Linked DNA regions of Homo sapiens. The protein of the gene in region 1 interacts with the protein of each later gene in a pairwise test. Each region holds a gene or a part of one and is shown in the gene's direction. Other genes may lie near its edges.

Region 1 (3,500 bases):
TTAATTATTGTTATACTTTAAGTTTTAGGGTACATGTGCACAACGTGCAGGTTTGTTACAAATGTATACATGTGTCATGTTGGTGTGCTGCACCCATTAACTCGTCATTTAGCATTAGATATATCTCCTAATGCTATCCCTCCCCCCTCCCCCCACCCCACAACAGCCCCCGGTGTGTGATGTTCCCCTTCCTGTGTCCATGTGTTCTCATTGTTCAATTCCCACCATTTTGAAGGGAAGTGTTAGTAGACAGTAGCCACCACTCTGGAAAAACATGAGATGAAGGAGATCACTGTAAGGGCATGAGCCCAGGTCAGGAGGTTTAGAAAACGCTTTGGCATCCAAGTTGACCATTTAAAACTTTTCCCTAAGAATAAGCCAAGCAACCAAAAAAGAATTTAATTCCTAGTCCAACGGAGGCATTCCAGTTATGTTCATTACCAGCCATTCTCATGTTTACAAGAAAATGCAAGTCATGGAAATCCTTTATTGAGATCTAGGGTTCAGTTATTAGGGGAAGTCATAGTTATTTCTGATTGTTGTCATTTTTATTTTTAAATTGTTTAAATTCAATGTACATAACTTTTTGAATCATATGGGTTAGTTAGAAAAAAATTAAAGAAATTTATTTGTAAATTATACAAGAGAATTGACAGGAATAATGAATAGGAGATACAAGAGAGCATCTGAAAAATTTTAAACTAATGGTTATAACAAAAAGAATCGCTTTTTAAACTGTAAACTATAGTGACACAAAAAATATTTGTTATTATAACATTTATATATAGGGAGAGAGAAAGAGAAAGTGATAGAGAGACATAGTGTGTGTGTGTCATTGAATCTTCCATTTTCCTGAAACACTACCCTATTGAGCTGTTTTTACTTAACTTTTATTAATCATATAATTTAATTCCAATATTTTGTAGAAAAAAGGGAACAATTCTGCCCACCGCCACCTCAGATACCTAATGCTCAGAATATGACAACCACAGTGAATTATCAGGATGGAGAAAAAGTAGCTGTTCTCTGTAAAGAAAACTATCTACTTCCAGAAGCAAAAGAAATTGTATGTAAAGATGGACGATGGCAATCATTACCACGCTGTGTTGGTTAGTAGTTTATTTCTAAGTAATTTCACTTAAAAAGAGGTTATTAATCCCCTTTGCTTTATCTAAAGAAAGAAACAAGAACTTATGACTAATCTGTTGCACTGTACCCCAAAGCCTTAAATTGCTAAGTAACCAATTCTGTCATTTAAAAAAGTTTCTCTAAGAGTTATCTCCAACAGTGTTCATAGAAGAAACAAGTTTGAAATTTCTACATCTTCTTAAAAATCTTTTCTATCATATTTTTACTGTACCTTTTCTATGTTTAAATATGTTTAGATATGCAAATACTTACCATCATGTCACAATGGCCTATAGTATTCAGTATGGTAGCATGCTGTACAGGTTTGTGGCCTAGGACAGCAATACCCAACCTTTTTAGCATCAGGGACATGTTTTGTGGAAGACAATTTTTCCATGGACTGAGGAGGTTGGGGGATGGTTTCAGGATGAAACTCCTGTGCCTCAGATCATCAGGCATTAGATTCTCATAAGGAGCATGCAACCTAGGTCCCTTGCATGTGCAGTTCACAATAGGGTTCAAGATCCTATGAGAATCTAGTGCCCTGGTTGATCTGACAGGAGGTAGTAATGCTGGCAGTAATGCTCATTCGCCTGCCTCTCACTTCCTGTCATGCAGCCCGGTTCCTAAGAGGCCACAGAGGGTACTGGTCTGCAGCCAGGGGTTTGGGGACAATAGGAGCAATAGGCTGCACCATATAGCCTAGGTGTGTAGTAGGCAACATTATCTAGGTTTGTGTAGGCTCACTCCATGATGCTCACACAAGGAAAAAAGAGCCTAATGACACATTTCTCAGAATATCTTCTTGTCATTAAGTGCTACATGGCTGCATTTCAAAAGCACATATTTCAAAATATTACTTGACAAAACATCAGATATGGCAAAGAGTGCTTAGAGCTGGACAAGATGCCTGATAATTGAACAATCTATTTATCTAAATAAAAACCATTGGTAATTTTGCCTAGAGATATTTCCATAGGGGGTAAGTAATTGCAGTGTGTTCAAGAAAGAATGTGGGGTGATAAAGTAAGATCATGGAGGATGAGAAACAAGTAAATGTGTTCAAAAGGGAATAGAGAAATGAGGCAGTTACCGGATAGAAGATATGGAGAAAGTGAAATTTTACCTTATTGAATTGTGACATTTTCAGCATGTTTGTAGGTTGGTGAATGATTAAGTGGAAAGGGAGACATTGATGTTACAGAAGAAAGGAGATAATTCATGAAGAAGGATCTTTTACAAGTTTAAAGGTGAAAGAATCTAGTGTCATCATGAAGAAGTCAATCTGAGAAAGCAAGGACAGTAACTCAATGAAACTAGAGGATGTACAAGCAATTTGGGATAGGATTACTTAGTGATTTCATATTTATGTTCTTGGTGATATATAAAGGGAGATCAGTCAGTACAATTGAACGTATTCCAGCCAATCTTAGCATGAAGTTGTTACTTTTTTTAGTTTTCCCCAAAATCTCTTCATTAGCATGAAGTTGAAACATTTATTGATAGGGAAAGATGCCTACAATATTATTTGGTATCAAAAAAGTAAATGCAGAAGAGTGTGTCTGCAATTCATTTTCAGTAAAACTACAAGTTTATGATCATATACTAGTTGGTATATGCTATTTGCATAAAGTAATAATTACCCTGAGACTAGAAACAGTAAGAAAGTTATTTACTTTTACCTTTCCTCTTTAAGTGACAATTGAATATTAAGGGGTGGAGGAGGAACCTAGACCAGAAGTTTACTCACCTGTCTCTCCTGCCTTCAATAAAAAGTATTCCCGGTATTTTATATGAATTTCACTTTAACATGAAAGGAGCTACAATATGTTTTGAATCAGACTTTATGACAGAAATACTGTAATTAATTATTTGAATTTCCAGACACCTTATATTAAAGATATGATACATGATGCTTCATTATATTATTTTGTTTAAACTAACATAATGTCTCAACAAATAAATGCTGTTTTCCAGAGTCTACTGCATATTGTGGGCCCCCTCCATCTATTAACAATGGAGATACCACCTCATTCCCATTATCAGTATATCCTCCAGGGTCAACAGTGACGTACCGTTGCCAGTCCTTCTATAAACTCCAGGGCTCTGTAACTGTAACATGCAGAAATAAACAGTGGTCAGAACCACCAAGATGCCTAGGTGAGTTCTTAATATTCTCTTGGAATCTGAGATTTAATATTTATAGTGTAATTTTTTTGGACTAATTTCATAGAATAACCCTTACTTAAGTTTCATTCAGTCAAAATCTTTCCTGTCAAATGTAAATACATACAAGGAAACATTTGAAAAATTTGCTTTATGCAAAGTGAGAAAAATTTATTTAAAAACTATAAATAAAATTTTAAAGACCT
Region 2 (4,127 bases), on another chromosome or scaffold:
CCTGTAGCCCCAGCTACTTGGGAGGCTGAGGCAGGAGAATAGCTTGAACCCGGGCGGCGAAGGTTGAGTGAGCCGAGATTGCACCACTGCACTCCAGCCTGGGCGACAGAGCGAGACTCCATCTCAAAAAAAAGAGTAGTAAGTTCCACCCACCTCCCAGTATGGTGACTTGCCATGGCATCTGGCACCCCTGACAGTTCTCTTCACACTGCCATGGGGGCTCTGGCACTCCCACACCATACCCTAGGGCAGGGTCCCTCCCTCGGCCTCTGTCCATTCTCTTCACACTGCCATGGGGGCTCTGGCACTCCCACACCATACCCTAGGGCTGGGTCCCTTCCTTGGCCTCTGTCCTCAGCCCCTCTGACGTTAGAGGAGTTGGAACCCAGGCTCCCCCTTCCCCTCTCCCAGGTGCCCCATGGCAGCCCAGACTCTGTGTCTGCAGTTCAGGGGCAGGGAGTCAGGAGGGCAGGCACAAAGCGTTCTCAGGAAGAACTGGCAATCGGGCGCAAGGGTATCATCTGCCCGGGTGCTCTGGGCACCCTGGAGTCCTCTCCCCACCTCCCACCCCCACCTGATCCTTCCCAGCTGCCACCATTCCTCTCCCACCACACCACCCAGGCCAAAATCACTCCATCCATGACGCCTACAGTAGCCCAGCGTAGGTCTCCCTGGACCACATTTATCCTCAAGGGCCTGTGTCCTTATCCCCCCTTCACCCCCAACTCTCCCCTGCCACAGCCAGCCCTCTGTTCCTCTCACACCCCAAGCTCATTCCTACCTTCACTGGCCTCTTACTCCCCAGCTGAAATATCACCTCCTTAGCAGAGCTTTCCCAGTGAGATAACCCCCCCGCTCCCCGCAGAGCTCTCCCATCACCCAGGGTGTTTCCTTCATGGAACTCATGACAATGTGAGGTTGCCATGTTTCTTTGCTAAGAGGTTTCTTGTGTAAACACCAGGAAGGAAAGGACCTGTGCCTGTCCTCTTCCCTAAGCACTTGAATGAATGAATGAATGAATGAATGTGGTATGGGTGCCTGAGTGAGCAGGACCTTGAATAAGTGTGAGGTCCTCTCTAGGCTTCAGCTTCCTCCGCCTCCTCCCCTCACCGCAGCCGCCTTCCTCCACCCATCCCCACCATCCCAGCTGCTGTGAAATGGGCAAATGTCTTGCCTCCAGGACCTGGGAAGGGTGATGCAGCTCACCTCCCTCCTGTTCACACCCCAGCCACCCCAGCCATCCCAGCCGGGTCCCAGCCACCCACACAGCACCTCCTCCTGGCCCCGCCCTGCCCAGCCCCTCCCAGGTGCCTGAGGTGGAGCCGCCAGTTCCCACAGCACCCCAGCGGCCTGCCATGGGGGGTCTAAGGCCCTGGTCCCGATACGGGCTCCTGGTTGTGGCCCACTTGCTGGCCCTGGGGCTTGGGGCTGTGGTGTTCCAGGCCCTGGAGGGGCCTCCTGCATGCAGGCTTCAGGCTGAGCTCAGGGCAGAGCTGGCAGCCTTCCAGGCAGAGCATAGGGCCTGCCTGCCACCCGGAGCTCTGGAAGAGCTGCTGGGCACTGCCCTGGCCACCCAGGCCCATGGGGTCTCCACCCTGGGCAACAGCTCAGAGGGCAGGACCTGGGACCTTCCCTCAGCCCTGCTCTTCGCTGCCAGCATCCTCACCACCACAGGTAAGAGAGCCAGGCAGCCAAGTCGGGGGGTGCGGCTCCAAGAGGCCATGGCTCCCTGGGGGCTTTGGGGTTCATGCAGCCCTTCCTTCAGCCCCAAAGAGCCAGATGGAGCCCAGGCCCTGTGAGGCCTGACATCACAGCTGGGGCTCCCCACCAACACACCCCAACTGGTGCCTCCACTTCAACTGCCAGGAAGGGTGTGGCCTCCCCAGTCCCACCCCAGGCACCCTTTGAGACCCAGGAGAGCTGCCCAGATGCCACAGCCTGTGGCCAGATAGGGGATACAATACAGTGGGATGGATTCTTGGATGGAAGCAAATAGAATGAACCTGGGAAGGACAGATCAGGACCATGGCCTCGGGTGGGGGAGTGAGGGAAGATAGGGGAGGAAGTCGGCATGAGATGCTTGTGGATCAGGAGGGCACAGACAGGGATGAGGGAGTCCTGCAGAGAAATCGCGTGGGCACAGGCCCAGGGAAAAGCAGCAATGAGACCCACAGCCCTGGGTTTTCGTATTTTTTGCCCCACAAAGTGTCTCAGTATTTTTTGAATTGGAATTTGTATTTCCAACTTTTTTTTTTTTTGAAACGGTGTCTGACCCTGTCACCCAGGCTGGGGTGCGGTGGTGCGATCTTGGCTCACTGCAACCTCCACCTCCCGGGTTCTAGCAATTCTCCTGCCTCAGCCTCCTGAGTAGCTGGGACTACAGGCATGCACCACCATGCCCGGCTAATTTTTGTGTTTTTAGTAGAGACGGGGTTTTGCCATGTTGGCCAGGCTGTTCTCAAACTCCTGACCTCAAGTGATCCACCTGCCTCAGCCTCCCAAAGTGTTGGGATTACAGGTGTGAGCCACTGTGCCCAGCTCATATTTCCAACTTCTTTTGGAAAATCAGGAAACCCACTCACACTGAGCCAGAATCCCTGCAAGGCAACATCCTGACTGGAGCAGAATGGGGCCTGCCCTTTGGATACAGCTCACACTTTCCAGTGTACCCCTGTCCCCACCACTCCTGTTTGTCTCCCATCTGGCTCCGGTAGGCATGTGCGTTTGCAGCTCTGTATTAGCTGATCCTGTTCTCCCAGCACACCCCGCACTCCCACCCCTCCCCGCCTGGCACATGCCCTCTCTCGCCCATGCTGCCTCTTTGCAGCCCTTCATGATTTGCCTGCCCGACTCCCCCACCAGAAGGGGCAGGGCCTGGGCTGATTCAGATCCCAGTACAAAGCCTGGCACACAGGACATGACACACATTTGGGGAAAGAGTGGATGATATTCCACCAGCTGTGGAATCGGGAGTATCTGTTAAGGGCAGCGCAGTTCTCAGAATTGTCCCAGCTACAAAAGGCCTGAGGAACTGTCTTCTTTCATCCTTTCATTTTCCAAAAAAGAAAAGAATGGCCTAGAGAGGGTAAGGGATCCCCTGACGAAGAGGAGCAGAGCCAGCTAGAACCTGGGCCTGGCCAGTTCAAGGCCACCAGAGGGCAGCCTTCTGCGGAAGGCAGTATTGGGGTAGGCAGGGACCCCAGCAGACATGGCACTCAGAGCTCTCACTGTCCACTGACTCTCTCTTCTCCAGGTTATGGCCACATGGCCCCACTATCGCCAGGCGGAAAGGCCTTCTGCATGGTCTATGCAGCCCTGGGGCTGCCAGCCTCCTTAGCTCTCGTGGCCACCCTGCGCCATTGCCTGCTGCCTGTGCTCAGCCGCCCACGTGCCTGGGTAGCGGTCCACTGGCAGCTGTCACCGGCCAGGGCTGCGCTGCTGCAGGCAGTTGCACTGGGACTGCTGGTGGCCAGCAGCTTTGTGCTGCTGCCAGCGCTGGTGCTGTGGGGCCTTCAGGGCGACTGCAGCCTGCTGGGGGCCGTCTACTTCTGCTTCAGCTCGCTCAGCACCATTGGCCTGGAGGACTTGCTGCCCGGCCGCGGCCGCAGCCTGCACCCCGTGATTTACCACCTGGGCCAGCTCGCACTTCTTGGTAAGTCCAGCCACCTAACAGCGTGTGGGGGAAGGGGGAAGAGGAGCCTGGACTAGGACTCCCATAAATCACTGGGGGGCTGGGCCTTGCAGGTGGAGGGACCTCACTCCAGGGCACGGCGTGGGAGGGGTAGTCGAAGAGCTCTGGTGGCAGCGTTGAGAAGGGGGTGAGTGGTGCCAGTTGCCAGGGCAAGTCACTGCGCTGGGAGGTGGGCGGGGAGCATCACCAGAACCCAGGCGCTGCCCCAGCACCTTCTCCTCCCCAGGTTACTTGCTTCTAGGACTCTTGGCCATGCTGCTGGCAGTGGAGACCTTCTCTGAGCTGCCGCAGGTCCGTGCCATGGGGAAGTTCTTCAGACCCAGTGGTCCTGTGACTGCTGAGGACCAAGGTGGCATCCTAGGGCAGGATGAACTGGCTCTGAGCACCCTGCCGCCCGCGGCCCCAGCTTCAGGACAAGCCCCTGCTTGCTGAAGCG

What was found.
Region 2: the proteins of CFHR5 (region 1) and KCNK7 interact in binary tests that used the Homo sapiens proteins (3 or more experiments, as listed by UniProt).

Annotation. Positions count from the first base shown.
Region 1 is NC_000001.11:197,001,556-197,005,055, forward strand, and holds part of CFHR5 (complement factor H-related protein 5 precursor), read left to right. Parts: intron 1-926; coding exon 927-1,109; intron 1,110-3,105; coding exon 3,106-3,288; intron 3,289-3,500. UniProt on the Homo sapiens protein: Involved in complement regulation. The dimerized forms have avidity for tissue-bound complement fragments and efficiently compete with the physiological complement inhibitor CFH.
Region 2 is NC_000011.10:65,593,001-65,597,127, reverse strand, and holds the start of KCNK7 (potassium channel subfamily K member 7), read left to right. Parts: upstream 1-1,327; 5' UTR 1,328-1,355; coding exon 1,356-1,674; intron 1,675-3,253; coding exon 3,254-3,652; coding exon of another isoform or gene 3,653-3,708; exon of another isoform or gene 3,709-3,744; coding exon of another isoform or gene 3,745-3,785; exon of another isoform or gene 3,786-3,917; coding exon 3,918-4,123; 3' UTR 4,124-4,127. UniProt on the Homo sapiens protein: Probable potassium channel subunit. No channel activity observed in vitro as protein remains in the endoplasmic reticulum. May need to associate with an as yet unknown partner in order to reach the plasma membrane.